Regions from separate parts of the Homo sapiens genome. Here regions 1, 2 and 3 are each linked to region 4. Evidence: fine-mapped QTL for protein levels in blood plasma. A gene starts in region 4. Each other region holds a variant in brackets. All regions are shown on one strand. Distances are between the middles of the regions.

Region 1 (8,108 bases), 45 kb after region 4:
AGACACAGAGGAGAAGATTTAAAACTTGACAACTCTAACTGCAACCCCAAGGCAGAATTTTTCACAGGTTATGTAACAGATTCTGGCACTTCCCACTCATACCATCCAGAATGCTGTTGGTTCCAGTTCCTGATGTTATTTGGGAGGGTGAGTTGGGATAGAGTTAGTTCTCTGTCTCCTGGTTCCTCTCTAAACAATGAATGATGAGCTCTTACACAGGCACAAAATTCAGAGCAATATATCTGAAGTAATTTCCAGCACTTGATTTAGAGAACAGATTTAAATAAGATAGGATATTTCTTCTAAGGATTGTACATTGGTAAGGTACAATTAGGGACTAAATCTGTCTATCTCAACATTGAATCCCAAGTACCTAAGAAAGTTGTCACTCAAAACGTAAATGCTGAATGATTCAGTAGAGATCACTGGAAGAAAGTGCCTTGTTGTTTTCTCTAAGAATAACAACTGGATCCAGTGATCCCATATTTAAGCTCATGTGAACAAGGAGAGATCACAGTGATGGTACATCTTTTTATAAATCCATGAAGGTGGGGAAAAGGACATGGGGTTGTAACCAACTGCACTGATTTTATGTAACTTCCAAAGGACAGAAAATTATTGGGTAATATTGACACTACAATGACGTTTGTTTCCTCCTGAGGTTAGACTCCAATCAAGAATGCCTTAGACGGGCTGGGTGTGGTGGTGAATGCCTATAATCTCCATATTTTGAAAGGCTAAGGCAGGAAGATTGCTTAAGCTGAGGAGTTCGAGACCAGCCTGGGTAACATAGTGAGACCCTGTCTCTACAAAAAAAATAAAAAATTAGCTGGGCATGGTGTGCATGCCTGTAGTCCCACCTACTCGTGAGGCTGAGGCAGGGGGATCACTTCAGCCCAGGAAGGTGAGGCTACAGGGAGCTATGATCCTGCCACTATATTCTAGCTTGGGCAAGAGAATGGAGACCCTGTCTCAAAAAAACAAAAATAAATAAATAAAGTATGCCCTAGATTTTAGAGCTCACAGCCACATTTGTAATCAACAAAGGGGAACCCTCTCCAAAATATGATAAATGCCTCTGAGAATCTTTACTGTAGAGGAGGAGACTGTTTAATGCCTCTTCCCCTCGTTCTCCACAAAACACATAAAGCTTACTTTGGATCCCATCTCATATGACTAGAAAAGGGTTGTGAGAATGATAACTACTGAAGTCAAACCTAAGACAGTGGATATTCTGGCCACTCTGAGGATATAGCTCTCTAGCAAAAAGTTCGTTTGCCACCAGATCATTGACCGATCACAAAACCAAGGTGAGACCATGGTTACTCTTGTTTCAGGTCATCTTTCTCTCTGCTTTCCGGGCAACCTTTTCCTTTTCCTTCTTCCAGCTAAGTCCCTATTATCTTCCCCTCTTCTTCCAACCTTTCTCTGATCATGCTCCCCAATTCCATGTTGGCAATCTGAAATACAGCATCCTTACAAAAATCCCTAGTTTCAAGTCCAGAAATCTGATTAAAGAGTTTTTCATTTCCTTTGCAGGAGTTCAGAAAGGTCCATAATTTTTGCTGTCTGCGGGCTATGGGTTCATTATTGCCAGACTTTGATTTATCTAGGCCACGTCCCCTAAAAGAGCTGACATTAGCCCCATGAATCAGCTAACAAGTGGTGCCTATCTTTTCTGGGCTATCATTAACCCTCTAATCCTGACTCAATGACTCATTCAGGGCTCTGACAGTCTTGACTGAGAAACGCCTAGTTAAAAGGATAGGCACTTACCTAAAAGTGAAGTAACAATATCAATGCAATTAATTTTTGAAAACCTATTATATGCTAGGAGGTGCTGTACTAGGAGATGGGTGTACAGAGATGAACAATTCCAGACCCTGCTGTGAGGAAGCCAACAATTCATCAGAAGTTCACAGAATGCCTACTATATGCTACATAGTGTACTGAGTGCTGGGGGAAAATATAGTTATATTCTGGGGAGCAAGACAGCACTCCCAAAACATAATCTTTTACCCTAATGTAAATTTAGGGAGGCAAAAATCAAAGACCATCAGCCAGAACCCCTTGGGATTTAAGTTCCTATGTAAATTGGAATTCTGGGTCCCTTGCACACCTTTTCTAAGGAACTGGTTTCAGAAGAACCCTATGATAGCTTATTAAAAATACGGAATGAATAAAAGTTTAAAGGAGAAACCTGAATCCTAGAAGGTTTCATCTGATATATGGCACAAAAATTCACGCTTTTCACAGCCAACTTTCTTGGCACTTTTTTGTAGGTAAAGTACAAGATACGAGGGTTGAAACTGTTCTTATGCAGCCACTGAAAACTGGCTGTGGACATTCTTCCCTCAAAAGTTGATTTTACTTACAGAGCTAGATTCTAAAGTAGGTAGTTGTCCATGCAGCAGAATCTGAGTGATGAAATATATCCTTGCTTTCTGAAACTCCACCATGCATTCCTTTAGGTCCTAAAGAGCAGTACTAATGATAAACCGGAATAAGGTGTTCTGGACCCAAACTCTGTTTCTACCATTTATCAATTATTTGACCTTGCACAAGTCACTTACCTGACTGAGTCTACTCTAGAACACATGTTTGCTGATTCTCAATGGAGTTTTCTTTCTGCAAAAATGCCTTTGTTCAGATGAAAATTAGATCATTCTTTGAAATGACAAAGGTGAAGTCATTTCAGGGTAATAAGGCATTTATCTAACAGAAACAGCAACTGGGGATAACATTGGGGATGGAAAGGCAAGTTTCTTGGGGGCATATTGTGGAGGAAAGATTCGGGGTGACAGAACAGAAAGTTACAGGCTAACAGAGGAGTTGTGGTTAATAGAAAGCTCTCATGTTAGCTTGGAGCCTGGTGAGTGCACTGCTACGTTCTCCTTGTCCAGCAACTGCCTTTAACCTACATTACGGTTCTCTTCTGAAGCTGTGGAGAAGGTGGGGAAGAGGGGATGCTCAAAGAAGAAATAGTACATTTCTAAATAATAAGTTTCTAAATTTGGTTTCCTTCTCCCTTCAATATTTTTTTATGAAAAATTTCAAACATATGGTGAAGTTGAGAGTTGAAGGGATTTTACAGAGAACCCCCCACCTAGATTCTACCATTAACATTATAACACTACACAAAAATTAACTCAAATGGGTCAAAGTCCAAAGGATAAAACTATAAAACTGTTAGAAGAAAACATAGAGATAAATCTTCATGATCTTAGAGTAAGCAAGATTTTTAAGATATACACCAAAAGCACAAGTAACCAAAGAAAAAACAAATTGGCTTTCATCAAGAGTAAAAACTCTGGGCATCAAGGGACACTACCAAGAAAATGAAAATAATTTAC[A/G]TAATGGGAGAAAATATTTGCAAATCATATATCTCATAACAGTTTATTTACCCAGAATATATAAACAGCCCTTACAACTCAACAATAAAAGATGACAGAATTAAAAATTGGGCAAAGGACTTGAATAGATAGTTCTCCAAAGAACACATCCAACTAGCCAAGAAGCACATAAAAAGATGCTCAACATCATTCGTCATTAAGGGAATGCAAATCAAAACCACAATGAGATATCACTTCACACCACTAGTATAGCTACAATAAAAAAAAAAAAAGATGGACTATTGTCTATTGCCAACAAGTGGTGGCAAGCTTGTGGAAAAATGGAAACTTTCATACACTCTTGGTGGGAATATAAAACGGTGCAGCATTATAGAGAACAGTCTGGTAGTTTCTCAGGAAGTTAAACATAGAGTTACCATGATCCAACAATTCCATTCTGGGAACTGAAAACAGGTGTTCAAATGAAAACTTGTACATGAATGTTCATAGCAACACTATTTACAATAGGGAAAAGGTGAAAATAGCCCAAAATGTCCATCAACTGATGAATGGATAAACAAAACATGGTATATCAATATAATGAAATATTATTCAGCCATAAAGAGGAATGAAGTACTGACACTACAACATGAATTAAACTTGAAAAGATTACACTAAGTCAAAGAAATCGAACACCAAAACTAGTACATTGTGTGATTTCATTTTTATTAAATATTAGAATAAGTTAATCCATAAAACAGAAAGTAGATTAGTGGTTACCAGGGTTGAGGGAAAGGGAAATGAAGAATGGGCACAGGGTTTCCTTTTGGGGCGATGAGAAATTTCTGGATTAGATAGTGGTGAGGATTGTACAACACTGTGAATGCACTTAATGGCACCGGATTGTACACCTTAAAATGGTTAAAATGATGAATCTTATATTTTGTGAATAGTACCTCAATTTTTTAAATGGGGAGGGGTAAATATAGCTAATTTTCTCGAAGCATAACTTTTACTCAGAGTTTTTTCCCCTCCTTTTTTAAGGGCTTTTACATTAAATAATTACAAATATTATGGAGAAAATGTAAATCATATATAACATATTAGAATCAAAACAAGATTTCAAAATATTTCAAGTGAAGGGCAGCAACTATTGGGTTACATACGTACACTCTTCTCCTTAGGAATACTTTGGTGGAAAAAAATATTGCATGAAGATATTGGTACAAGAACTAGGATGCTGATCTGGACCACAAATATCCCTAGAGCACAGAACAGAGAAGAGAATGAAATGCTTCTTTAGGATGATAACAGACAGACTAAGACCACCACGGGGCCTAGAACGTGCACAAAGCCCTCTGCACAAGAAAGCTCTGTCACTCAAAAGAACAGGCACTAAATACCTTCTTGACAGTTCCTTCATTCATGTAAGGTTCAACTCAAGTCTTACCTACTCTACAAAGCATTCCCTGGTCTTTACAGCCCATGATGATCATTCCTCTCTGGACTATCATAGAATTTACTACTTGTACCACAATTATATACCATATGCTAACCGGATATGACTTAACTCCTGGGGTATTTATTTTTTTTAAAAGTGCACTGCAAGATATCCATGGAAGCAGCTGTGGTATAGTATAATGAACTTTCACGTGGAGGCAGAAGAAATAGGTTTATGTTTTAGTCTGCCAATCACTATTAATTTGCTATGACCTTGGTTGAATACTTTCTCCTCTTTTGGTTTTAGAGCCCTCATCTAGAAAATCTATATAATAATTAACAAGGTTTATAGGGGTCACTGTGATAACCTAGAGAATTATGTGCAATATTTTGCACACTGCCAAATACTACATAATGTGAGAGATTCTTAGTACTTTTATATTTTAATGGGTTAACAGACTTGTAACTCCACTGCAAAATTTTTGAAAGCATACCCTATAGCTGTGGAGGTCTTTGTCTTCCACAGCTATAAGCTGGGTTTGAGTACAGGATAGGCACCCCAAATAGTGAACCAAACCTAAGTGGCCCATGTCACCGTTCATTTGACAGGGGCAATTAATCAATGCTGAATTAAAAAATAAAATTAATTCATTGAATCTGACTGTGAAGTTGCCAGGAATACCCTCAAAGAAAATAGAGCTGATCAAAGAAGTGGAACAATGGGGCAGGGGATAGCAGACAGTCAAACTGTAGCATGATATTTTACTTGTACACCAGTGCTTTGCTTTCAGATCCCAAGCAGAAGGCTCTTCTAGACTCAGAGCACTTCTGATAAGCCTCTCCTTAGGTTACACCACACTCATGTTTTTCAGTGACAAACACTGCTCCCCCTCTTAGCAGAGATTCTAGGGAAACAAACCATACCAATTCACCCAGGGGTCTCACCTCAGAGTTTCTGCCAATGTCCTAAGAAGTTTCTGAAAGTTGCCTTCCCAGAAGCCTGCTGGATACAACAATGATGCCATGACCCAGATTCTATTTCATTTTATCAGACACCAGGATTCCTTCTCCCAGCCCCTTAATGCGTGGGCATCCCAAAATAATACATCACACTACACTAGCCAAGGATTCTCTAATTTGTCAACGTGGAACAGTAGTCAATATCCCTAGGAATGAATGGCCCAAAGCAGTGAACTGATGAGCAAGGAGTTTGGATCTGTTTTTCTTAAAAAACAGCCTACTAACCAGAACCACTCGGTAAGCCAGTAGAGTGGGTAATATATTGACATTAAAAGTAAATTCAAAGCTTTTGAGTCAGAAGTCCCACTTAAGATATAGAGGAAGGTCTAAAAAGTAAGATCTGCTAAAAGATGAAAACGCTTCCTCCAAACCATCAAATAGGAGTGCTTAGGAATTTCTAGTTCTTTAGGGTTGCCGAAGGACCTGAAAAGGATCTGAATAGGATGAGATTATGATAATCCTGATGATGAAAATAATAACAACCTTTATTGAGGGTCAAAATGACAGATACCATGCTAAGTATATACAGACCACAACCCCATTAGGTAAGTGTATTAGTCCATTTACACACTGCTAATAAAGACATACCCGAGACTGGGTAATTCATACAGGAGAAAGGCTTAATGGACTTACAGCTCCAAGTGGCTGGGGAGGCCTCACAATCATGGCAGAAGGCAAGGAGGAGCAAGTCATGTCTTACATGGATGGCAGCAGGCAAAGAACTTCCGCAGGGGAACTCTCCTTTTTAAACCCATCAGATCTCATGAGACTTATTCACTATCATGAGAACAGCACAGGAAAGATCTGCCCCCCTGATTCAATTATTTCCTACTGGGTCCCTCCCACAACACATGGGAAGATGAGATTGGGGTGGGGACACAGCCAAACCATATCATTCCACCCCTGGCTCCTCCCAAACCTCATGTCCTCACATTTCAAAACCAACCATGCCTTCCCAACAGTCCCCTGAAGTCTTAACTCATTTCAGCATTAACTCAAAAGTCCAGTCCAAAGTCTCATCCAAGACAAGGCAAGTCCCTTCTGGCTAGGAGCCTATAAAATCAAAAGCAAGTTAGTTACTTCCCAGATACAATGGGGGTACAGGCAATGGGTAAATACAGCCTTTCCAAATGGGAGAAATTGGCCAAAACAAAGGGGCTGCAGGCCCCATGCAAGTCTGAAATACAGCAGGGTAGTCAGAGGTCTTCACAGCAGCTCCTCCCATCACAGGCCCAGAGGCCTAGGAGGAAAAAATAGTTTCATGGGCCGGGCCAGAGTCCCTGTGCTGTACAAGTGCACAGAAGTCAAGAATTGGGGTTTGGGAACCTCTGCCTAGATTTCGGAGGATGTATAGAAATGCCTAGATGTCCAGGAAGAAGTCTGCTGCAGGGGCAGGGCTCTCACAGAGAACCTCTGCTACAGCAGTGCAGAAGTGAAATGTGGGATCAGAGCTCTCCCAGAGTCCCTACTGGGGCATCACCTAGTGGAGCTGTGAGAAGAGGGCCACTGTCCTCCGACCCCATAATGGCAGATCCACCAACAGCTTGCACCAAGTGCCCGGAAAAGCTTCAGGCACTCAATGCCAGCCAGTGAAAGCAACCAGGAAGAAGGCTATACCCCTGCAAAGTCACAGGTACAGAGCTGCCCAAGACCATGGGAACCCACCTTTTGCCTCCATGTGATCCGGATGTGAGACATGGAGTCAAAGGATCATTTTGGAGTTTTAAGAGTAAGTATTACAATTATTACCATTTTATGTTTTTAGACAGGGTCTCCCTCTGTTGCCCAGGATGGAATACAGTGGCACAATCACAGCTCACTGTACACTTGAACCCTGGGCTCAAGCAACCCTCTTGTCTCAGCCTCCCCAGTAGCTGGGACTACAGGTACACATCACTACACCCAGCTAATCTTTTAAATTTTTTGTAGAGATGGGGTCTTGCTATGTTGCCTAGGTTGGTCTCAAACTCCCAGGCTCAAGCGATCCTCCCATCTTGGCCTTGGAGAGTTGGGATTACAGGCATGAGCCACTGTGCCCAGTATATCACTATTTTAAAAAAGAAAATACAGAGGTTTTATTTAAAAACTTGTCTTAGGTTACTTAGCTTTTAAATGGTAGGGGTAAGGATACAAACTTAGATCTGAATTTCTCCCAAGTCCGAGTCTTTATATACTCTATTGCCTCTTGCACGGGCAGACTTCCCTCCAATCATCCTGTATCTACCCCAAACCCAGAAGAGTTATAGATATAGCTGGGTCTTATTCCCTTCCTTACAGAGGAAAAGGCTGGTGTCAAGAAAAAAATCAAGGAAATTT
Region 2 (8,108 bases), 64 kb after region 4:
TCAATATATCATGCTCTTCTTTGTCTCTGGTAGCAATTTTTATCTAATGTCTATTTTGTCTAATATTGGCACAGTCATTCCAACTCTCTTTTGGTTACTATTTGCATTATATATATATATATATATATATATGCTTTTGCTTTTAACCTATTTGTGACTTTAATGACTTTAATGTGTAACTCTTGTAGACAGCATATAGTTGAATCATGTTCTTTTAAAATACATTCTGTCATTCTGTTTTTTAAGTGTTTAATCTAATTTCATTTAATGTAATTATTAAGGTAGGAATTACATCTGACATTTTGTTGCTTGTTTTCCCTATATCTTAATTTTTTATTCCCCTATTCCTCCATTAATCTCTTTTGTGCTAAATTTGCATTTTCTACTATACCATTTAAATACCTTTGTCATTTATTTACTTTTTTTAAAAAGTTACTTTCTTAGTGGTTGTCTAGGGAATTACAATTAACATATTAATTTGTAACAAACTTGTTTGGATTGATACCAATTACAATAGTTTACAAAAATTTTCTTCCTATATAGTTCCATTCCCTCCTCACCCTACATCCTTTGTGCTATTATCATATAAGTATTTTTATATATTGTATGCCCACTGACACAAATTTATAACTACTGCTAGCAACAATCTCTCATTTTTTTGTACATCTAGGAATGTTTTAATTTCTCCTTCACTTTTGAAGAAAAATGTTGTTAGAAACAGAATTCTTTGCTGATAGTCTTTTTCTCTTAGCATTTTGAATGTGTCATCCCACTGCCTCTGGTCTCCATGGTTTCTGATGAGAATAAGCTGTTAATCTTTTTAAGATCTCTTCTACATGATGACTCACTTCTCTTTTGCTACTTTCAAGACTGACTTTGGGTTTGGCTTTCAACAGTTTGATTATGGTGTGTTCAAACTTTCAAAAATGTATCCTACTTAGAGTTCATTGATCTTCTCAGATGAATAAATTCTTTTTTTTTAATTATACTTTCTAAGTTCTAGGGTACATGTGCACAACATGCCGGTTTGTTACATATGTATACATGTGCCATGCTGGTATGCTGCACCCATTACATGGGTCATTTACATTAGGTATATCTCCTAATGCTATCCCTCCCCACTTCCTCCACCCCACAACAGGCCCTGGTGTGTGATGTTCCCCACTCTGTGTCCAAGTGTTCTCATTGTTCAATTCCCACCTATGAGTGAGAACATGTGGGGTTTGGTTTTCTGTCCTTGCGAGAGTTTGCTGAGAATGATGGTTTCCAGCTTCATCCATGTCCCTACAAAGGACATGAACTCATCCTTTTTTATGGCTGCATAGTATTCCATGGTGTATATGTGACACATTTTCTTTTTTCTTTCTTTTTTTTTTTTTTGTTGAGATGGAGTCTCGCTCTGTCGCCCAGGCTGGAGTGCAGTGGTGTGATCTTGGCTCACTGCAAGCTCCGCCTTGTGGGTTCACACCATTCTCCTGCCTCAGCCTCCCGAGTAGCTAGGACTACAGGCGTGCGCCACCACACCCGGCCAATTTTTTGTATTTTTAGTAGAGAAGGGGTTTCACCGTGTTAGCCAGGATGGTCTTGATCTCCTGACCTCGTTATCCACCCATCTTGGCCTCCCAAAGTGCTGGGATTACAAGCATTAGCCACCGCACCCGGCCATTATGTGCCACATTTTCTTAATCCAGTCTATCATTGATGGACATTTGGGCTGGTTCCAAGGTTCCAAGTCTTTGCTATTGTGAATAGTGCCGCAATAAACATACGTGTGCATGTGTCTTTATAGCAGCATGATTTATAATCCTTTGGGTATATACCCAGTAATGGGATGGCTGAGTCAAATGGTACTTCTAGTTCTAGATCCTTGAGGAATCGCCACACTGTCTTCCACAATGGTTGAACTAGTTTACAGTCCCACCAACAGTGTAAAAGTGTTCCTATTTCTCCACCTCTGGATGAATAAATTCTTGTATTTCATCAGTGTGGGGAGGTTCCTGTCATTGTTTCTTCAAATATTCTCTCTGCTCCTATTTTCCTTTCTCCTTCTGGGACTCTCATTGTTTATGTTGGTATACTTGATGGTGCTCTACAGGTCCTTGAGGCTCTGTACATTTTTTTCTTTCTGTTCCCCAGATTGTATAATCTCAACTGATCTATTTTCAAGTTCATTTTTTTTCCTGCTTAAATCTATTTAACCTCTCTAGTAAATTTTTCATTTGTTACTAACTTTTAAACTGCAAAACTTCTACTATATATGGAGAGAGTTACACACACACACTCATTCTCATTCACTCTCTCTCCTTATTTGGGGAGACATCATTCTCATATTTCCTTTAGTTTTTTAGATATAGTTTCCTTTAGTTATATGAATGTATTTTACGTAGTGAATTAAAATCACAAACAAGCAGAAGCTGATGATCACAAATGAATTTTATAATATAATCTAGTAGCAAAAGTCTTATAACTAACAGAATAACAGAAAAGCCATGTGCTTTATTCTCATTTAACTTTGTGAAAATGTCACTTGGAATCCTATTAGTGAGGATGTCCTTCTGGAGCTCTGGACTGGTTCTCAGAACACCTGGGTTCTCTTCTAAGCCACCCCCTGACCTGCTGTAATACTCTGAAGGAGCCAACAAGAATCTGTCTTTTAATGTGAAAATGCTTAATTTTATCTTCCACTCATACATGCCCTATCAAGTTTACATTTTTAGGAGATCTCTTTCCCTGCTGTATAGAGAAAGATTTATAGGAAAGCAAGGCTGAAAGCTTTAAGATAGGAAGTAATTTCAAGACTGTAGGTCACACTGATGGTGACCTGGCCTAGGAGAAATGGATGACATGAGATAAATTCTAAAGGTATAACAGATTTGACATAGTGTCAAGTTAGATGTCATGAATGGCAGGGGAAGGTATCAAAAGTGACCCCAAGGTTCTAGCTTGATTGGGTTGATGGTTGTACTATTTATTGAGATGGAAAGGAAGTGCTGGGAAGGAGATGAGTTTGAAGGAGGAAAAATTCAAGAGTTCAGTTTTGGATGCGTACATAAGAACTGCAAGTGGGGATGTCATGCAGATATTTGAAGTTCAAGGATAGGTCTTACTGGAGGTAAAAATTGGGAAGTCATTAAGACCAAGATGGTATGAAATCTATGGTGATGGCTGCAATCACCCAAGAAAATAATTTACAGAAAGAGAACAACTAAGGGCTCTGTTTTGAGCCCTGAGAAATCCCAACACTTAGAGATCTGGTACTGGGGGAATGATGATGAAAAGATACTAAAAAAGAGCAGCCACCAAGTAGGGGGAAAGAAGAAGGAATGGTCAACTTTGTTGAATGATGGCGACAGAACAAGTTCAATGAAGATAGAGAAATACCCACCAAATCTGTCCAACTGGGGGATGATGGTCCTTTTTTTTTTTTTTTTTTTTTTTTTTGAGACGGAGTCTCGCTTTGTCGCCCAGGCTGGAGTGCAGTGGCGCCATCTCGGCTCACTGAAAGCTCTGACTCCCGGGTTCACACCATTCTCCTGCC[T/CCT]CAGTCTCCCGAGTAGCTAGGACTACAGGTGCCCGCCACCATGCCCAGCTAATTTTTTGTATTTTTTAGTAGAGACGAGGTTTCACTGTGTTAGCCAGGATGGTCTCGATGATCTCCTGACCTTGTGATCCACCTGCCTCGGCCTCCCAATGTGCTAGGATTACGGGCTTTAGTCACTGCTCCCAGCCTGACGGTCCTTTAAAAAAGAGCTATTTTAGTGTAATTGAGGGGAATGGTACGGAAGCCAGACTGTAGTGAGCTGAAGAGTAAGTGGAAGGTGAGAACAAAGTGACATCATGTGTAGATGATTCTGTCTTGAAATGTTTTCTTCCTTTGGCTTTCGTCAAACTAGTTTCCTGGTTCTTCAACCTGTCTGCTGGTGTTGAAGTTCTTCAGAACTTAGGCCATCTTACTTTGCCTTTTCTCTCTCTTCTATCTAAGAACATCAGTCACCACACGTAGGCCAACAACTCCAAGATTTACACTGTATCTTTGTTTCAGATCTCTCCTCTGAGCTCCAGACTTATAAATTCAGTTGCCTATTCAACATATAATTAAACTCAATATTTCCCTTCCATACCTGTTTTTCTTCTAGCATTCCATATTCTCTGTGAATTATATACTCTTCTCAAGTGTTCAAGATGACACCTGGGAGTCATGCTTTACTCTTCTCTCCTTGTGCATCATAACCAATCCAGTAGCAAATCCTGTCCATTCTATTGTCAAATATGTATTGTTTAGAGATATTCTATGTGCTAGGCACTCAAAGGCCCCTTAAATACCTTATCTTTCTTACTAAGGTTCACAAGAACCCAACAGAGTAGGTATTACACTCACCCCCTCATCTTGAAACTGAGACTCAGAATGGCTAAGTTACTTACTGTGGTTACACAAAAAGTAAATGGCATAGATGGAGGTGACTTAATACCAAATATGCCTGAATCCACACTGCCTCTGGCACCCCACCTAGCCTTTCTGAGGCCAAGTCTCCTCAGGACTGAGATGGAACTGATATTTCCTATCTTTAGGCTGTTATAAATTTTTTTTATAAAATATAAGGTACATATCACAGTGCCTAGTAAAGGGTATGAATTCAATAAATGTTGTCTTTTACACTCTTTCACTCCTTCCTCCATCCTGTTTCTGGGGCCAACCCAATGATACTAGGATTACGAAATCAACAAAGATTACTCCTTGCCTTCAAGAAGCAAATAATCTATTTAAGGAGACAAAATGAACACACACAAAACAGATTAATAATATTAGACAGTAGAGAACTAAATATTAAATTGCAGGGGCCAGGCACGGTGGCTCATGCCTGTAATCCTAGCACTTTGGGAGATTGAGGTGGGCGGATCACCTGAGGTCAGGAGTTCAAGACCAGCCTGGCCAACATGTGAAATCCCATCTCTACTAAAAATACACAAAATTCTGGGCGTGGTGGCATGTGCCTGTAGTCCCAGCTACTTAGGAGGCTGAGGCAGAAGAATCTCTTGAACCCAAGAGGCACAGGTTGCAGTGAACCAAGATTATGCCACTGCACTCTAGCCTGGGCAACAGAGCAAGACTCCATCTCAAAAAAAAAAAAAAATTGCAGGGCAGAGCCTTCTTATAAGACTTTTAGAGAAAGGAGAAAAGGCAGTCAGGGGATAGAGATGTACTTTTGAAAAGTAACCATTAGAACAGTTAGGATATAGAGTAAGGATATCAGCAAAGAACAGCAGGACACCTAGAAAAAAGACGCTAATGTGGAAAGGAAAATAACATGCTCAAAGTCAGTGATGAGAGCAACTGATTTCAGCAAAAGGTGCTTAGTTTTTCCCACATCAAAGTATCGTTACTACTAAGTTTCCTTGTTACAGCTGAAGTTCCCAACAGAACCAAGAAAAATTTAAGCCCATTATTAAGACCAAATGTACTTCAGTGATGGCAGAGCCATCATTAAACTAGCTATCTTACCAGGGGAGGAGAACAAGCCCCAGACTCTGACCCACAGGAGACAAAAATAACTCACATGCCCGGGAGTACTTTGAGAATAATATCACACTTGTCAAAGTGGGTCTAATGATGTCAGTCATCTTTTTCTACCTTGCATTTCTTCATTGCAGCTTACACTGACAAATGATACCATTCCTATGTCCACAGTTTTCTTTGATTAAAAACCCACAGAGACCACAATACTAATATGACCACTAAGGCTGAGGCTTGAATGAAGGTTTTATTCTCCAGAATCTGTTCAATAAACCAATTTGATTTTTATAACAAAAAATGTGATACATAATTTGCTCCCCCATTCAGTAGAGATTCTGGACAATGGCATCACAGAATATTGGAGCTAGAAAGAAACTTAAAGATTACTTTCATGTTATTTTACTGATGAGAAAACAGATGCCCAAAGAGGAAAAATAATAACTTTAAGGTCAAAGGCACCCTGTGGGAGAGGAAAAGTAATCAGGATGGCTAACAGGCCCTGGGAGAAGTCACAGAGAACCCCCAGTGAGGGTAGTAATGAAAATGGGGAAAAAGGGAAAATGTTATAGATAAAGCTATTCTCAGAGATCCAATGGGTCTTTAATACTGATCAAGAAACCTAAAAAATTATTCCAAAGTCACCTCAAACTCTGGCTCAACAGGCCCTTCTTCCACCTCTCAAATGTTAAGGTGGTCAATCAACAAACATTAATTGTGTACCAACTATACAAAACATTTTGAAACACTAGAGTCAGTGCTGAAACAATGCAATGACATATGAAACACAGTCTTTGACCCCCAGGAAGCCTAGAATCTGGCTGAAGACATAAGGCATGAGAAATGAAATAATATGAGTGGTCCAGGGATGCCAAATAAGTGGTATAGCTAATAAGTGTTTTGAATTCACAGAAGCTCAGAAAGATCTGCTTGGAATAATAGTTCCTTTGTCTGGAGAAATTTTACTCTCTTCAAAGCCATTCAGATATGACCCCTCCAGGTAAACTAACTTACTTCTTCCTCTATGCTCCCCATACCTCTCTATACAAGCCTTTCTCTCACAGATGAGAGGTTAATTGCTCTCATTTGTATTCCCTACTAGAATGAGCTCGTGGAAAGCAATGATTGTGTCTTAACCACCTCTTAAAGAAAGAGCAACATATAGATTTTTCTATACTTAAATCTAAATCCTAATTATCTTTAGAAATTATGCTTAAAAGTATAGCGAGGAAAGTTTGAACGTTTGGTGCTCCATTTAATAGTGAAGGAATTAAAATATTTTCCATTATTTCCTCACATACAGTCTAAAAAAAGTTCAGATTCCAAGTATCCTCTGATAATCGGCCTTAAATGTGCAAGAAGAGTTAAAGAAAGCATATTTGGGTGAAAAACACACTTTTTTAAAAAAATGAATTTTCTTTGCAAAAAGAAGAATGGATTGATCTGTAGTGATCTGCCTGAATTACCTGTTTTAGTGACATCTTCCTCCATTGATAGTTTATCTACATTTTGTGCAATTATTTTGTCAGTTGGCCAAAGTAGTTCTGAACTCAAATCCAGAAGTTATTAGAAGATTTAACATTCATTTTGCAATAAACACACCTGCCTCTCAATATCCAAGTAAGTCTTTATAGAAAACAGTTGTACATAGGCTGCTTACATTTATTTGGTGGTCAAACCCTCTATTCCAATAGACAGCCTGCAGAGATGTTGAGTGTGGAACAAAATACAGGGGGTAGACCACTGTTAGTGTTCCCACTAAGTCTTGAGGCTTAACTATTTTGACAGAAGCAAATTACTAGCATAAATAATACCCATAATCCAACTTAAATTTTAAAAATACCCCAAATTAAGTAAATGCTAACAGCTCTGAGACAAGGCAAAATACCTGGCTTCAAATCCTAGCTCTTCTGCTAATATTGGATGTGATCTCAAATAAGTCACTTTCTGTCTCTGGGTCTCACTTATAAGAATTACTTGAGCTGTGAGGATCTGTTACCTTTTAAAAAGGCTATAATAATCAGTCTACTTCTCCATCTCTCCATAGCTGATTAATTAAATTTTCCCATATAGATCACAGCAAACAGTTTGGCAAATGCTAACATTACAAGCTATCATTTAGCTTATAAACTATCAAAATATTTCTGAGAAAATATTAGAGCAAGGTTATCTTCTTATAGCTCCATGCTCCTTAAATAAGAGTAATGAGAAAAAAAATACATATCCTCACAGAATACCCATAGAGATTCTTTTTGTAGTACCAATTTTACACAATGATTGTTCTTAGTATATAGTTGTAATGAGCCCAAGGAATATAAAAACATAAACTTAAATTTCTCTACAATCCCACCTCTGAAAGCAAACTATTATAAACAGTTTAGTGTTGATCATTCTTCTAGACTTAAGCCCTCCATCTACCAAGATTATGAGGGGAAGAGATAGAAGAAGGAAGTTTTGAATTTCCATTTCCCTAAAAACAATTTAAAACATGCTGATATTAAAACTAACTACATTATGGAACACAATATTATGGAATAGAATGCCAAATTTACATGAGTTTGTCTTATAACATTTTAAATACATCTATCACTCAAAGCAAACC
Region 3 (8,108 bases), 30 kb after region 4:
ATCAAGTTTAGAGACCATATACTTCCTTAGGTGAGGACTCTGCTCTACTCATTTTGTGTTACCAAAGCCTGTCCTACTGTTTGACACATGAAATGTTTATAGAGTTACTGAACACAGCTAGATATCTGAAGGTTAATATCAGAGGACAGCTGAGTGCTATGGCATGTGCCTGCAGTCCAAACTACCTGGGAGGCTGAGGCTGGAGGATCACTTGAGCCCAGGAGTTCGAGTGCAGCCTGGCCAACATGGTGAAACCCTGTCTCAAAAAAAAAAAGAAAAAAAAAGAAAAAAAAGAAAAAGAAAAGAAAGGAAAAAAAAGAAAAAGAAAAAGAAAAAAATCAGAGAGAGCAACCAGGCTCAATCTAATACAGAGTCCTAGGCTTGAAGACCTCTGTGAATGCCTTCTCTGGAGTTTATGAAATTTCATCAGGTGATCTGTGGGAGGCTTCAACAGCCTTATGTGGCAGATGAGATCTCTTAAGAAAAGCAGCAATCCCAAAGATCTGAAAATAACTAATTTCTGTGTAAACATCCCAGCTGTGATTTCAGTTGGGAACAGCAAATCACTTTTTCTGAATAGATTTTCTGAAGATCTCTATTTTGGGGAATAATTAAATGATGCAGTATCACAAGATAACAAGATTATCAAATACAGGAAAAAAAAAAAGAATCCTGTAACTCAGGAGAACACATGACGGGAAGATTAGATGCATTTGTCTGTAATTATAGTGGAGCTACAGAACAGAATGCTTTGGAGTCATGGGACAGATTTTCTTTCCATGACTGACTTATAAAATTAAATCAGGCTGATTTGATATTGGAGCAAAGTGGGTCAGTTATCAAGTTTGCTTTGAAGAGCAGGCAAATATAATTTTGAAGATTTGGCTTTATTTTATGCCAGATATGTAAGGCTCCTAGCATCTTGAATACTGCAGGTCTACCTCCACTGTACGGTCACGAATCACACCCACAGTCACCGCTGTCACCAGAGCTGCAGGTTCCCATCCTTTGGTAGCAGTCTAGATACAAGGAAATGTCCTCCATGATTTGGTCTCACCCTTCTGTTTGCAACTAGTATCTCTTCTTTTAAGTCTGCTTCAGTGTCTCCATAGGAATTAGAAAAAGGCACCTCTTCCTCAGGATGCCTGCAGGACACACTCCTGCACCAGGGCACTTGGATTGGTGAGTGGAATGTGGGGCTGCATCCCAGCCCCTACTTGTCTCCTCAGATAGATGTCCTTGTACAGTGAACAACCTGCATAAGCATATGCAGGAGCCCTGCCCTACTCCTTCTATAATTCAGACAGTTTCCCAGCCCCTGTGCCTTGGACCACTGTGAAATCACCCCTGCCATAATTCTTCAAGGTCCAAAACAAGTTCTGCCTCCTTAGGAAATCTTCCCTGACCTCCTCTCCTGCAGTAGTTTCTCCTCCTTCTGGAAGCCTAGTCCGAATGAAACCTGTTGATTTGTCACTTTAAACAGACAGTCTAGTATCATCAGCTGATTTTTAATTTGTGTCTCTTTTCTCCTCTGTATCAGAAGCCCCCTGATAGTGCATACTGTCTTATACATCCTTCCTATTCTCCAACAACTCAACCTCACACTCACCACTGCCTTATACAAAGCACATCTATGACAGTTAATTTTATGTGTTAACTTGATTAGGCCACAGGTGCCCAGATATTTGTTTAAACATTATTTCTAAATGTGTTTGTGAGGGTGTTGCTGGATGAGATTAACATTTGAATGAGTAGACTGAGTCAAGCAGATTGCCCTCCCCACTGAGGATGGACATCATTTAACCCACTGAAGGTCTGATTAGAACAAAAATGTGGAGTACAGGAGAATTTGCTCTTTCTCCCTGTCTTCAAGCAAGGACATAGCTTTTCTCCTGCCTTTGGACTCAGATTGAAACTTATACCATTGGCTCTCCCAGTTCTCAGACCTTCAGACTTGGACTGGAACTATCATTAGCTCTCCTGGGTTTCCCATTTGCCCACTGCAGATCTTGGGACTTCTCAGCCTCATAACTGTGAAAGCCAATTCTTTATAACACACACACATGCACACACACACACACGCACACAGAGATGCATACACATCTCTCTGTGTATATATGTACAGACACACATATACCTATGTATACTCACACACACATATATATATGTACACACACACACACACACTTGGGCTGCTATATCAAAATGCCATAGACTGGCTGGCTTAAACAACATTTATTTCTCACAGATCTGGAGGCTAGAAAGTCCAGATCAAGGTGCCAGCAGATTCAGTTCCTGGTGAGGGCACTCTTCCTGGTTTGCAGCTGCCTTCTCTGTGTCCTCACATGTGAAGGACAGTGAGCAAGCCGTGGTCTCTCTTCTTATGAGGACACTAACACCATCGTGAGGGCCCCGCTCTCATGACCTCATCTCAACCTAATCACCTCCCAAAGGCCCCACCTCCAAATACCATCATATTAGAGGTTAGGGCTTCAACATATAAATTTGGGGGACACAAACATTCAGCCCATAACAACACTCTCAGTAAAGACCTATTTCTTGATTCCCAGCAGAAGACACCTGCCCACCTGGGACTTAAGGGAACAAGGAACCATAATACACAAAACAATATCACACAAAAATACACAATACCATATGTTTATCAGATGACAAAAACAAATAGCCATTTACATCTTCTGGCTGGGGTATACACACTCCCTGAATCAAAAAGAAGGAAGAGTGCCCTCCCCACCATGTTACACAGAAAAAATTCTTTATGCCTTCTCATTTTGCACGAAATTTTGCATTTTCATCAACTGCTGAGTGGCACAGTGGAAAGAGTGTGAATTTTAGAGCTAGACTAATCTGGGTTTAAATCTCAGGTCCTCTACTTGCTGTCTGAACTTGGGCTCTTTTACTTCCTTGTTTCTTCATCTATAAGGTAAGGACAGTACCCATTTCCAAAGTTTGTTAGAATTAAATGACTCTGCCTTTAATGTATTCCTGAAACATTATCTGTCCTCTTGGGCTTTTGTACGACTTTCCCTCAGATTTTTGCATGTCCTGCTTCTTTTTTAATGTGTAAGTCTCAGCTCACATATTCCCTCCTATGTTTCTACTGACTATCTGAACAAAAGTAGTTTCCTCTGTGCCCCCTCCATCATTCTCTATATTATCTTCATAATATTCATTATTTCTATTTTGAAATCTTTTATTATTCATTTTATTCTTATTTCTATTTTGAAATTTTTTATGATTCATTTTATTATTCTTCGTTATTTCTATTTTGAAATTTTTTCAACTACTTATTATCCATCTGCCCAACCAAAATGTAAGCTCCATGAGAATAGCGACCTTGTGGTGGTAGCCACTGTATCAATCTCATGCCCAGCTCTGTTACAATGCCTGGTACATGTTAGTGCTCTAATGTTTGTTGAATGAGTAAATGAGAATGTAAAGTATCAAGTGCACCACAGCCACACATTTCAGGGGTTTTTTTCCTCCTCTTTTTATGTAAAAACCACTGGGTTAAAAAAAACTTTCCTGCGTGAGTTCTTTGAAATGGAGAGCATTTCAACAAAATGAATTCATTCTTTTAATGCTGGTCAGGCATTTATAAATATAGACAAATACATGTTTTTTCCAACGTATGATGGGACCATCTTCCACCTTAATGTTCTATTTTAGGTATAAGTCAACAATTACTGAAGTATTTATACATTTTATTCACATGATAATATGAAAAATTAACAAGATAATATTCCCTCAGCCTTCTGAGAGGGAAAATTTTGCTTAGAGATCTTTTACTTATTTTACTT[G/A]TGAAGAAACAGAAGCCTGAAGAAGGGAAATTTGACAAGTTCAAGATCAAACAACAGTTTGAGGCAGGCCATGTTCCCTTTCCATTCCACCATGCTGCCTCCTTAGAGCAAGAAAGGTAACTCTCCTCCAAATTGAAGAAGACTGGAATTCAACACATAGAAATCCCTAAGTGATATAACAGGATGTAGAAACTGAGGACCCGATTTCCACTCAGAGCGCTTGTGAGATCAAGTATCATAAAGAATGTAAATAATTGGCTGGGCGTGGTAGCTCACACCTGTAATCCCAGCACTTGTGGAGACTGAGGCGGGAGGATTACTTGAGTCCAGGAGTTCGAAACCAGCCTGGGCAACATAATGAGATTCTGTCTCTACAAAAAAATAAAAAATTAGTCTGGCATGGTGGCTAGTGTCTGTGGTCCCAGCTACTTAGGAGCTGAGGTGGGAGGATCGCTTCAGCCTGGGATGTTGAGGCTGCAGTGAGCCATGTTCACACCACTGCACTCCAGCCTGGGCAACAGAGTGAGATGCTGTCTGAAAAAAAAAATGTAAACAGCTTAGTATTATAGAAGCACAAGGGAGTTTTATTTTTATCATTTTGCTGATGCATTGATTCTGTTTGTAATACCACATCATCAGTACACAGTTCGTAGAGCAAATTGCTGCAAGGAAATAAAAGAGATCTCCTCACATTCTGCTTTTGTTAGCAAAGGAGACTTGATCCTCTTTTCCTGGTCCAAGTGCAAACTGACATGGCTGGCATTATCAGCCTACTCACCACCATGGCGCAGCAGAAACATCCTCATACCTCAAGGCAACAATACTTTGGATTTCCAAATCCAAACCCAGGTGGCACATTCCATTCTACAATTTTCCAACTGGTGCCAGTTCAGTGGGGATATTATTCACCAGAACAGACACTAACAACTGAATTTTGGCAGGCTGGGAGAACTGGCACTGTTCTGGAAGAGTCATGCCACAGGTTCCCAGATGCACTTGAGTTTAGCAACATGGAACCACACAGGCTCTGAATGGAGAAATGGACCTTAGATGCTATCCTCTCATAGGCAAAGAAACAGAGGCTTAAAGACAGAAAGTTGACCAAGATCACACGGTGGGAAAGCTGATGTCTTCTCAATACAATGTCCTTTTTGTTAGATCAAGGTTAGCCCAGAGTATAAGCTCATGCCTTAATAGAGAAATATGAAGACAGATAGTGCTGTTCTTGCTCTTTTCTCAGTGAATTTGTCCATCCTTTCAGCCACCTCTAATGATCCATTGAAATACACTTCACATTCAAAAGCTCTAAAAAGTAGTTTTAAAAACCAACTCAAGCTGGTTAGCCTGAAAACCTAGTTCATTTTTACCCCTAGTGTTTGGACACATTCCTTTGAAAAGACGTTCATTATGTAGTGCTGTTGTAATGAAATATATTCTATAAGCCTTTCAAAATATTGTAATTCTAATTAATTTACTCATGCAACAAAGATTCATTAGATTAGGCACCTATTATTTGTTCACCTATATGAAAGGCACTTGGTAGGGGGAAGGGGAAGGAAAGACTTTACCCTGCTCTAAAACAAAGAAGAATAAAAATAAATTAGTGTTCGAGAGAAGTACCGTAGATTGTTATCTAAAGTACAAGCACCAAAATTATAACTGCAATGAAATTAATATCAACTAATATCTATTAAGCACTAGTACCTGTGCTAACCACTTTATACACCTTATGAATTAATCCTCATAATGAATTATATAAGGTAGATAGCATTATCTCCCAAATTTACAGATAACTAAGGCACAAAGAGATTAAGTAACTTGTTCAAGGTCATACAACTACTGGGTGGAAGATTCAGGATTTGAAACTAGGAAAACTGACTCCAGAGCAGATTAACCACTTCATACTACAACTAAAATATGGCATTATTCAAAAATTTTTGTACATTAGGAATTCATCTGAATTGTTTTTTCTTCATTTGGGAGGGGATTTACCCACAGGGCTTCTAATATTTTCAGGGTCTGACAGTGTAGAAATTAAACAGTAGGATTTCAATATGTGATGTGGAAAGGGCATTTCAAGTGACTTTAACAAAGGTAGTACAGCATGAAAGTGAAATTCACAAATCACTGCCCAGTGGTGGTGCAGTTATCGTATAATACAGAATATACATATGGCAGACAGGAAGTGCCAGGGCAACAGGGATAAAGTAGGATAAAGCCAGTTCCTTGCTTCTTGGTTTGCCAATGGCCAGGAGAGGGACTTCTGCCGATCTATGAAGCACATCATTTGGAATTTGGGGAATGATGAAGCAGAAACCTTGACAGTACTCTCTAGAAGCGAGATTTCTACTTAAATATTGTTTCCCCAGTTTCCAGATTCTGTGCTTTAGAGAGTTTCCTAAAATACAGCTAAAAGCCTGAGGCCAAGAGTAGCTTTCCCCTTATGTGTAAACAATTTTGGTATATGACTATCTTCACTTGAGTGACTTAAAGACTCTAGTCTGTCTCTGTCATTCATGTGTAGGAAACTTAAAATGACATCATCATATCCTACCTCATACCCCAATGCAAAAATCTCCTCTGTAATATTTATAACAAGGGGACATCAGAGAAATTTCTCAGTTTTTTTGTGTGTTTTGTGGGTTTTTTTTTTTTTTTCACTTTTAGACAATTCATTTTTTCAAGCTGGGCTGACATTTGCCATTTTGAAGCTTGCTGTTTGATTCTGGCTCTGTCCACATAAAACTGGTCTGCTTCTTTCTTGTCCATGTCCATCCTGTCTGGGACAGTGAACAGGGCCCCTTGAGACCACTTCTTCAGGCTATACTACCCCTATTCTCTCAAACATTCCTCCTATGATAAGGTTTTCAGACTCAGCATGAAATGAAGGCTCCTCTTTGAAAATGCTCTGCTTATGTTCTTAGTGCATGATAATTAAAACCTAATGAAATTCTTCCAGATGGTCAGATCAGACCTGAATAAAGCAGCAAGTATTGGAAGTTGGATATCTCTGAGATTTTATTGAGTGTAGCTTTCTGTTGACAAACTACCACTTAGGGAAAACATAATCTTGGAGAAATGCAAATCTGTTTATTTCTTCAAAGTTATAAATTTTAATCAGACCCAGCAGTATTAAATTTGTTCCGTCACTTTATATTATGCCTTACTGTGGAAAAAATAAACTTAGAATCCTCAGCAGCTGGCTGGGCGTGGTGGCTCACGCCTGTAGTCCCAGCACTTTGGGAGCCTGAGGTGGGTGGATCACGAGGTCAGGAGTTTGAGACCACCCTGGCCAACATGGTGAAAAAGATACAAAAAATTAGCCAAGCATGGTGGCACACGCCTGTAATCCCAGCTACTTGGGAGGCTGAGGCAGGAGAATCACTTGAACCCGGGAGGCGGAGGTTGCAGTGAGCCAAGATTGTGCCATTGCACTCCAGCCTGGGCGACAGGGTGAGACTCCATCTCAAAAAAAAAAGAAAAATCCTCAGCAGCTGTATACATTTCTCCAAACTTAATTTCATTATTTGTCATACAGCTATATTTAAAGAATATAACATACTTGTTTATTTGCTAATTGATCTTAATATTTTTCTATATTAATATACACTGTTGAAATCGCTTGCATATTCCTCCCCAATCCTATTCCTCTACATCCCTTCCCCAGGGATAACTACTCTGAATTAACATTCATTATTCCTGTATGTGTTTTTATATAGTTTTACTACATGTGTATATATCCGTAGACTGAATATAGTACTGTTTTGCTTGTTTGGGGCTTAATATAAGTGATGCTATTTTATATCTATCTGCCTACGACCTGCATTTTTCCCACTCGGTGTTATATTTCTGACATGTATTCATGGTAATATACAAAACCCTGGCCTATTTATTTTTATTACTTGAATACATCACAATTTATTTATCTGTTATGATGGACATTTAGTTTACTCTGAAATTTCTTATTGCAAGTAATGCTGAGTTCATCTTTCTTGTACAGGGGTCCCTTGCACAAGTCATTTCTCTTTAATTTTCTAGTAATTACACATTTTATTTCTATTCTTTTTGTGGTTAGCCTTAACTTCTTTTCTAAAAAAAGGACATACTTTACTTACCTAAACATAACTTTAATCAGTAGCTCTACTCTCCTCCCTAGTTTTAGTATACTTTAGGACTGGTCATTCCCCTTCTCTCTTTACTCTCCTCCTATGTCACATATTATTAGGCAATGTTTTAATTTCACCTCATTTTTATATTCCCTGAATTCGTCAGTTTTTATTACTTTGTACA
Region 4 (8,108 bases):
ACAATATATAAGATGTGTAACTGTATAAGATAGAGTACATGGGATCCCAGAGCTACCCAATTAGAGTTATCAAAAATATTAAACAAATCTGTGATTAGTAAAATATGTGTTTCTAAGTAACAGGAGGTAGTGGCAAGCCTAACAAGTACCATTATTTTAAAGTAGGAATGAGAATAATCCATAGAGATATGTGTCTCAACTATAAGATCTAAGATCTAAGAAAATCAGTAATCACCTTTAGTGACAAACTCCTATGTACAGGTAACTAATGTAGTCTGTCGTCTCTGTTCAAAATGAAGAGAAAGCTAAATTTCCCTTAGAGGCAAGTGAAAATGAATATTAATATATTTTCTCATCTTAGTCCACAGACCCCTCCTCTGACTTAAAAGGAACCCAGGTAAAAAAATCTCTGACTTAAGTGGCACCCTCTCTGTTATCTGAGAGTTGGCTGCAATGTGGAGGCTCAGCTTTTCCATCATCACTGAGGAGAAAACATACCCCACTCTTACTCACATGTAAGCCTTGTAGTTGTTGCCAATCTTCTGGACCCGGATGTCATACTTGGAGTCAATGAAAGGCTCTGCAGTGGCATAGGTCTGGGTGAGAGCCACCACGCTGGCAATGTCCTGGAAGTCGTAGTGGTTTTCCACTTTGACCTAATGTTAGAGCAGGGCAGAAAGGGGGAAAGGGAGACACACACATACACACACTGAGAAGTCACAAGGGCCCTGAGCCTCCAAACCCACCAATATGTATCCGATCCAGACACTAATCTGGGTGCCACATCTCCCCAGGAGGCCCCTTCTCCCTAGCTTCCCTTCCCAGAACTCAAGGGCCACACTTGCTGCAAAGGACCCAGAGGACCAAGCAGGTGGCTTGCATTCTGCTTACTGAAAGAGGTCTGGTTGGGTGACACTCATGGCTTTAGAGGTGGCAAATCATCTTCTCTTTGGAAAGAATTCATCAGTGACAGAGGGAGAATAGCAGTTCACAAATGGGCGCTCTGAAAACTGCCCTTCTTGGTTCAACCCTGAAGCACAGCAGGCCTCTCTGCCTCACCTTGCCCATGCCTGAGTGAGCGTGGCCAATCTTCACCACCACAGGGAACGTGGGCAGTGTCAGCTGAAATCAGAAGAGAAATGAATAAACTGTCAGAGTGTGCCCATCTCTCCGTGGAATCCTACACATATTTTTCTTGGGAATACCCTTGGGAGGGTTCTTTAAAGAACTAGTCCAATCTACTTGCTTTACAGATTAAAAAACTGAGACCCATGGAATGACAGTGAGTTCCCAGGGTCACAGAGCATATTAGTGGCAGTGCTACAAGAACCCTGTACTCTTATTTGGTATACCCTACATCTTTAAAATGCACTGTCAATTTTCTCTGCATTAGACAAAACCTGGGCAGGACTGGCCCTCAGACAAAGAGAATTAAAAAAAGAAAGTATCTCTGAAAGAGTGAACTTTACTATATGTAGATGTACTTTAATAAACCTGTATTTTTATTTTAAAAACACATCTTTGGCATCTTGATGTCCCTGTCAGCATGTACCCTCTTGGTACCTACAACCTTCAAAGGCCCAGCTTTCCTGTAATGATCCTGGTTGTTTTCTCCCTCTTTCACACTCTTCACTGCTCACCAATACCCCAATCTCACCACCAAACAAGGCTTTGCATGTGAAGGCCCATTTCTTCCCAGCTTGGGGTTTGAAAGAGAGCCGGTAGAAGAATTCAGTATGTTTATAAATGCAGAGAGATCCTTAGGGGAGCGAACTCTACACTGAGGTAGCCATACTTTAACAGAGGAGCAACAAAACCTTAAAAGAAGGATTATCCTCTAAGGGCAAGATTTCAAGCTGCTACAAAATGGTGATGTAAGAAGTAATATTGTGGAGTGGAAGGAGCACTGGGCTAGATGTCAGGAGACGAGTACTCTAGTCCTCTTCTGCCACGGACTTTCTACAAGTCACTGTATCTCACTGGGCCTCAGCCTTCACATCTGTCCAATGAAGAGATCAGATGGGATGCTTTCTGAGCTCCCTTCAAATAGTACATCAGCCTCTATCTTGGTCTGAACATTGTATGAAGAACCAGCCTGGATGCTAACCCGGGCATTTCATCTTTCAGTCAGACTCAGCTCTCTTTCAATTCCCTTCTTTTCAAATATCACTAACACCATCAAAATGAAAAGGTATCCTTTGAAGGAAATAATGTTGACCCTGATGAAAAGTCAGACTCCTATGGGAACTAAGATTTGAACAGATACTGGGGGTATCTGGCCTGAGGATCTCAGCATTCCTGGTTGAGGCCAGCCAAGGATGGGAAGAAGAACTTCAAAGGGCTTTAGAAATCACGTAGTTCAACTCTACTTTATGAAGAAAAAACTGAGGCCCAGAGAGGCAAAAGTCACAAAGCTACAGTGACAGTCAGAATTGGAACCCAGCCTCCCACTATCCAGTCCAGCACCATGTGGAAACATCCCACAGCAATAATCCCATGGAGATTTGGGATTTGGAGGCTTGCAACACTGTGCCCAAACAGCAGACAAGGCTCTGGTCACAGTCACCCCCAAGTCCCCTGCTTCTTTGTTTTTTCTTTTACTTTTTTTTTTTTTTTTTTTTTTTTGAGACGGAGTCTCACTCTGTCGCCCAGACTGGAGTGCAGTGGCACAGTCTCAGCTCACTTCAACCTCCGCCTCCTGGGTTCAAGCCATTCTCTTGCCTCAGCCTCCTGAGTACCTGGGACTACAGGTGTAGGCCACCACGCCCGGCTAACTTTTGTATTTTTAGTAGGGACGGAGTTTCATCATGATGGCTAGGGTGATCTCGAACTCCTGACCTCAGGTGATCAACCCGCCTTGGCTTCCCAAAGTGCTGAGATTACAGGCGTGAGCCACCACGCCCAGCCTGCTTCTTTGTTTTCTAAGCTGTCCCACCTTCTAGAACATGACAGAGTCTCCAGTGAGAAGGGACATGCAATAAAAATCAATGTAGTCTAGGGCCTCGAGAGGGCTTTGAGGTCCAAGGTTTGCCCTAAGTGATGGGACACTTTGTGTTTTGTACACCAAGAGCGCTGTCTCCAGCTATCTGGAGAGTCTGAGGCTCTGGGAGTGAGAAAGGGTTTCTAAAGCACTGGCTGCTTCTTTGACATCTCTCCCCACCCCCCAGGCAACAGAGCCAAGACACACACACCCCAACTTTCTCTGTCCTGTTCTATTACTGTTTGCTGTTGCTTTGGAGCCTCATAAATAGGGCATTGAAAGCACTTCCTGCAGCTGAAAGAAGCCCTGAGTAGCTCGTCTCATTCCCAGCGTGCAGCTCAGCAAGGGGTCCGTCCTTCTCTGTCACTGTCTCTTTTGCCTGTTGTAATTCTGTCTGCCTCTCTGGGACTCTGCCTGTCTCACTCTTTCTGTCTGTGCCTCTCCTCACTCTTGTTCTTTCTGCCTGAATCACAGCCCTCAGTTTTTCTGTCCTCATGCATTTGTCTTTGTGGCTCTTTCCGTCTTTCTGCCCTTGACACCATCCCCTCTCCCAGTGCTTCCCCTCTGCTTCCAGATCGCTTCATGACTTAGGCAGGGAAACAGAGGTCAGGGCCTCCTTCCAGGCTTCCCTCTGCATCTTACTGAGTATGCAGGTCGGAAGAGCCTCGGGTCCTGCCTCCGCGGGTGGCCTAGAGCCAAAGGAAGGCGGAGCCCGTCGGGGCGGGATTGGCCCTTAGGGCCACCTCATAAAGCCTGGGGCGAGGGGCACAACGGCCTTGGGAAGGAGCCCTGCTGGGGCCGTCCAGTCCCCCAGACCTCACAGGCTCAGTCGCGGATCTGCAGTGTCATGCCTGGGAGCCCTCGGCCCGCGCCAAGCTGGGTGCTGTTGCTGCGGCTGCTGGCGTTGCTGCGGCCCCCGGGGCTGGGTGAGGCATGCAGCTGCGCCCCGGCGCACCCTCAGCAGCACATCTGCCACTCGGCACTTGGTGAGTCCGAGGTCCGCGAGGTCCACAGCAGGGGGTGGTTGTGGGGGATTAGTATCTGGCCAGCAGTACACCAGGAGTCCAGAGGAAAAGGGAGGAGCTCAAATTCTTACCGGTTGTCTCTTGCTGAGGCTGATGGGTGGAGAAGGACCAGGCGCCATAGCAACCTTGCAAGCCCAGAACCTGACTGATTCATAAGGAAATGAAGATTTCATCAGGGACTTCCATAGCGACCTCCCTCACTCCGGCCATACTGCAATTATGGAGTGTCATTACACAAGGTGTCACCGGAGCTATCTGATGATTATTCTGAACTACTAGACTGGGGACAGAAAGGGGAGGGGAGAGGGCTTGCATTGTAACTACCCGTGTCTGTCCAGGCCTATAACTGAGGTTGCCACCAAGCCCCTATGGCAACACACACGTTCTGTCCTTTCTCTTCCCTCTGCCTGGAATGCCCTCCCTCACACCCTTAAATTCCTGGCAGACTCCTACTCATCCTTCAAGGGCTAACTTAGGTCTCTCCCCTTCTCTGCAGGCTCCCGGGCTCCTTGGTGCCGCCTCAGCATCTCTAACCGTCTTAGCGCTCCTACTATGCTGTGCTGTTGTTCTTTACACGTGTGCACTCCACTAGATCAAGAGCTCGGCAGGATGGGGACCCTGTCTTAATCACATCTATGGGCCTAGTGCCTAGTGCAAGGCCAGGCACAGAGGAAGAACATCATCAACAGTTTTTGGTTATTAATGCTCAAATGGCAAGAGATGCAATACCTCAGTGCAGGGTCAGAACATTTATGAATTCAATAAACATTTACTAATATCAACTGTAGGCGGGATGAGAGGCCTTGACCACAGCAATAGATAAACTTCACACCGACTGCCCTGAAGGGGCTCCTCCTCCCTTCTCTACTCTGACTCCTACCCTGTGCCCCACTGCACAAACGGCTATGGAGAACTAGAGCTCTCCAGACTAACTGGTTCAAAAGGCAGAAACAGCTTAGCGGTTATAGGACCTAATAAGCCTGAGGGGTTTGGAACTTCCAGTGACTGCAGGGGAGGTGTTTCCAGGTCCCCCTTCTCACACATCACGTTGCTCACAACCCAGCCACACCAAAACCAAGAACTGCCCTATAGACTTCTTCATGGACCCTGGATCATCCAGACCTCAGGTGTATTGCCCCCACCAGCTGCTGAAGGTTCCCTCTTTTCTCTTCCTATGCAGTGATTCGGGCCAAAATCTCCAGTGAGAAGGTAGTTCCGGCCAGTGCAGACCCTGCTGACACTGAAAAAATGCTCCGGTATGAAATCAAACAGATAAAGGTACATGGGGGCAGGCTGGGATGTGTAGCCCCTAAGGCTGATGGAGAAAGTGGAGTCTGTGTTCTGGGAGGGCTGGTAGCTTTCAGGTGGCCTGGCTCAGTAATCCTTGGGTCTAGATACTGAAGTGGAACTGGATGAGATTTGGAGGCAGAGCCCATAGAATCCCAGGGATATTGCCAGGGAGGGCCTCAGCATCCATCTGGTCCCACAGCTGCTGGTGTATGGTGCCACTACAGGTACCTACTGGAATAAACCAAGGTTTAGGTGTTTTTTGTTGTTGTTGTTTTGTTTTAAGAGAGAAAATAACCCAGTAGGGACATCTGAGGACACAAAATCCTCAACTAGACTTTTGCTTACATTTTTAGGCTGAGAAGTGAGAGGTTTTTGTCTGTTAATATATACAGTACACTCACTGACCCAATATTGCCTTTTTTTGTAATTGCCTGTCAGATGTTCAAAGGGTTTGAGAAAGTCAAGGATGTTCAGTATATCTATACGCCTTTTGACTCTTCCCTCTGTGGTGTGAAACTAGAAGCCAACAGCCAGAAGCAGTATCTCTTGACTGGTAAGTTAAAAGACCAACAACTGGCCTTAATATAATAGATTCTGCCCTAGGGGAGGTAGTGAGAAAGGAGCCAGGGTCTTCCTTGGGCAGTAGGCTGAGCCAGGTGGCATTTTCTTGGGCATAAAACAGAGCTGTGTTAGTGACAGACAACCTCTGGGTTAGGAGGAGCCTTGTAACCTCCCTTTAAATGTAAGAGTTCTTAGTACAGTGACCCTGGCCACCGTTTCACTATTTTAAGGACAGGCTGCTCACCCAGTGTAGGGCAGCTGCTTCCGTTTTTCAAATAGTTTAAATTAGTATAAGATTTTTGGCAACTTGAGTCGAAGTCTCCTCTCTAAAACTGCTCCTTGCAGGTCAACTCTGCCTTTTGCACAGGACTTAACAGGAGCTTGAGTCTAACATAGTTCTGTCTCTGTGAACTTGGGCCCAGGCAGGATTCCTCCATACTGAATTGGCTGGGATAGAACAGTTAAAGAATCACACAAAAATATGACTCCATAAATGAATGCAACATTAAATTATTTTGGAGTTCAGAGAACGGAACTATTTGGTAGTTGTGAACTATCAGGGAAGCTTCATTGTGTAGGTGGGATCTAAACTGGCCTGAAAACATAAAACAATATTTAGAAAGAAAGCAAGGGAAAGAAAAAGCACAGCAGTGGGGGAGGGAACAGGTGAAGGGATTCCACGATCTATCCACACATTCAGCAATGAATGACCACTTAGTCACTGCCATGCCTTGGCCAGGAGAGTGGAGATTCAGTAACAAGGCACAGTCCTTAAAAGAGTTCACTGTCCAGACATGGCTCTTGATGAGTCATAGGCACTGGAGGCTACAATGATAAGGGCTTCCTAGCTCTGAGGATGTGGAATTGTACAGAACTGAGGAGCTCCTGGATGGAAGAGGCAGAGGCAGGACACACCACTGAGCCCTGCAGTTCCCAGGTCTAGCAGACCAGGCCCTTTCAAACTCTATTATCGCACCTCCTTCCTAAGCACCTGCCCTCTGTGTGTCTAGCCCGCTGCTAGGCATGGAGGTACAGCAGGGGAAATGAGGAAACATGTTCCCTGCCTTCAGGGAGGTCAAGTCTAACTGAGGGTGGGGAGAAATGACAAAAAATAGTCTAAGAAAAGTTATCAATGGTGCCCAGGTCCTACAGGAGAAGGCACAAGCTCCTTTGCCTGGTGTTGAAAGCTCTTTGTGACCAGAACACTGCTGCCCTCTCTAGCTTTGTCAATATCAGTTCCCAGCCCCTCACTTTCCCAAGAACTGAACTCAGCTACCTGTGGTTGCAGAAGGTATGCTGCCAGGCTGTGTCTCCCTGCCTCTGCACAGGATAGTGGCAATGACAGGAAGCCCTTCCCCCAACCTGTTTGGTAGGCAGACTCCCACTCATCCCTTCAAGGCCCAATGCAAGCACAGTCTTCTCTGAGACACCTTCTTTGCCCCACACTCCTTCCATAGATGGAAATAATTGTATGTTCCTTTGTTCTTATACTGCACTTTGTATAGAACCACACAATAGTGTAATTTTTCCCTACTTATCCATCTACCCTACTCATTTCTAAGCTCCTTGGGAGCAGAGATCCTGTCATTTTTATATCTGTATTCCTGGTACTAGATCACAGCAGTCACTCAGTGAGTAAATGATTGAGCGACTGAGGTTCTAAAAGAGGCATGGGCTAGCTAGGTGGTCAGAGATGGCTTTGAGGTGGCACTGAAAGGGTCTTTGAAAGGTGAAAAGGAATCTACGGCCATACCACCCTGAACGCGCCCGATCTCGTCTGAAAGGTGAAAAGGAGCTTCATAGGTAAAAAGGGGGAAATTTCCTATGGGGAAGGTAAAAGACTCACCAATCTAGAGCAGGAGCCTGGCCTGTGCAGATACTGGGAAGGGCTGGAAAGGGGAAGGGACCTATTATTTATTGAATATCTTCTGTGGGACCACAACTGTGCTGGGAACTTTATAGACAATCTCTCATTTAATCTGACAACTTTATAATTTTCATCTTCCAGCTGAGAGGTTATACAACTTCCTTAAGATCATTCAGCTAGTAAATGACAGAAAAGAAAGGGGGATCCCACACAGACTTTGACTTTAAAGACCACATTCTTCTCTCTGTACCATGCTAAACGAAAAGGCCTTCACCAGATCCCACAACTCTGCCTCGTACAAACATAATCTGCTTATCTTTTTGCTAGAAAGATTATAGTAGTTTTATTTATTGGTCCCTTCACTGAGCCCCATGCCACCACTGCC

Alleles and levels. Alleles are on the strand shown, and positions count from the first base shown. The strength of an association depends on the size of the effect and on how common the allele is.
For the plasma level of the protein whose gene starts at base 3,756 in region 4, A is the low allele of the variant in region 1 and G is the other (moderate association).
In carriers of allele T in region 2, the plasma level of the protein whose gene starts at base 3,756 in region 4 tends to be lower than with CCT alone (strong association).
For the plasma level of the protein whose gene starts at base 3,756 in region 4, allele A in region 3 goes with a lower level than allele G (weak association).

The links. A credible set is the group of variants that fine-mapping cannot tell apart. PIP is the posterior inclusion probability: the model's chance that the variant is causal. The UK Biobank Pharma Proteomics Project read protein levels with antibody pairs (Olink). The fine-mapping took linkage between variants from a reference panel, not from the people measured, so its PIPs are less certain.
Region 1: its variant is the best candidate, but not a certain one, in a credible set for the plasma level of the TIMP4 protein (UK Biobank, PIP 0.68).
Region 2: its variant is the best candidate, but not a certain one, in a credible set for the plasma level of the TIMP4 protein (UK Biobank, PIP 0.62).
Region 3: its variant is the best candidate, but not a certain one, in a credible set for the plasma level of the TIMP4 protein (UK Biobank, PIP 0.88).

The regions. Positions count from the first base shown.
Region 1 is chr3:12,109,634-12,117,741 of GRCh38, reverse strand. The region is part of intron 1 of SYN2 (synapsin II); the gene reads right to left. Among named protein-coding and RNA genes, the nearest start is that of TIMP4, 45 kb to the left of the region's middle. The variant A/G (reference allele first, on the strand shown) is at 3,354.
Region 2 is chr3:12,090,881-12,098,988 of GRCh38, reverse strand. All of the region lies in intron 1 of SYN2 (synapsin II), which reads right to left. Among named protein-coding and RNA genes, the nearest start is that of TIMP4, 64 kb to the left of the region's middle. The variant T/CCT (reference allele first, on the strand shown) is at 3,539.
Region 3 is chr3:12,124,211-12,132,318 of GRCh38, reverse strand. All of the region lies in intron 1 of SYN2 (synapsin II), which reads right to left. Among named protein-coding and RNA genes, the nearest start is that of TIMP4, 31 kb to the left of the region's middle. The variant G/A (reference allele first, on the strand shown) is at 3,819.
Region 4 is chr3:12,154,560-12,162,667 of GRCh38, reverse strand. TIMP4 (TIMP metallopeptidase inhibitor 4) reads left to right here and starts at 3,756. Exons shown (of 5, transcript NM_003256.4): 1 at 3,756-3,966; 2 at 5,186-5,283; 3 at 5,734-5,848. The coding sequence starts at 3,828. It overlaps SYN2 (synapsin II), which reads right to left. Exons shown (of 13, transcript NM_133625.6): 6 at 1,060-1,122; 7 at 514-656.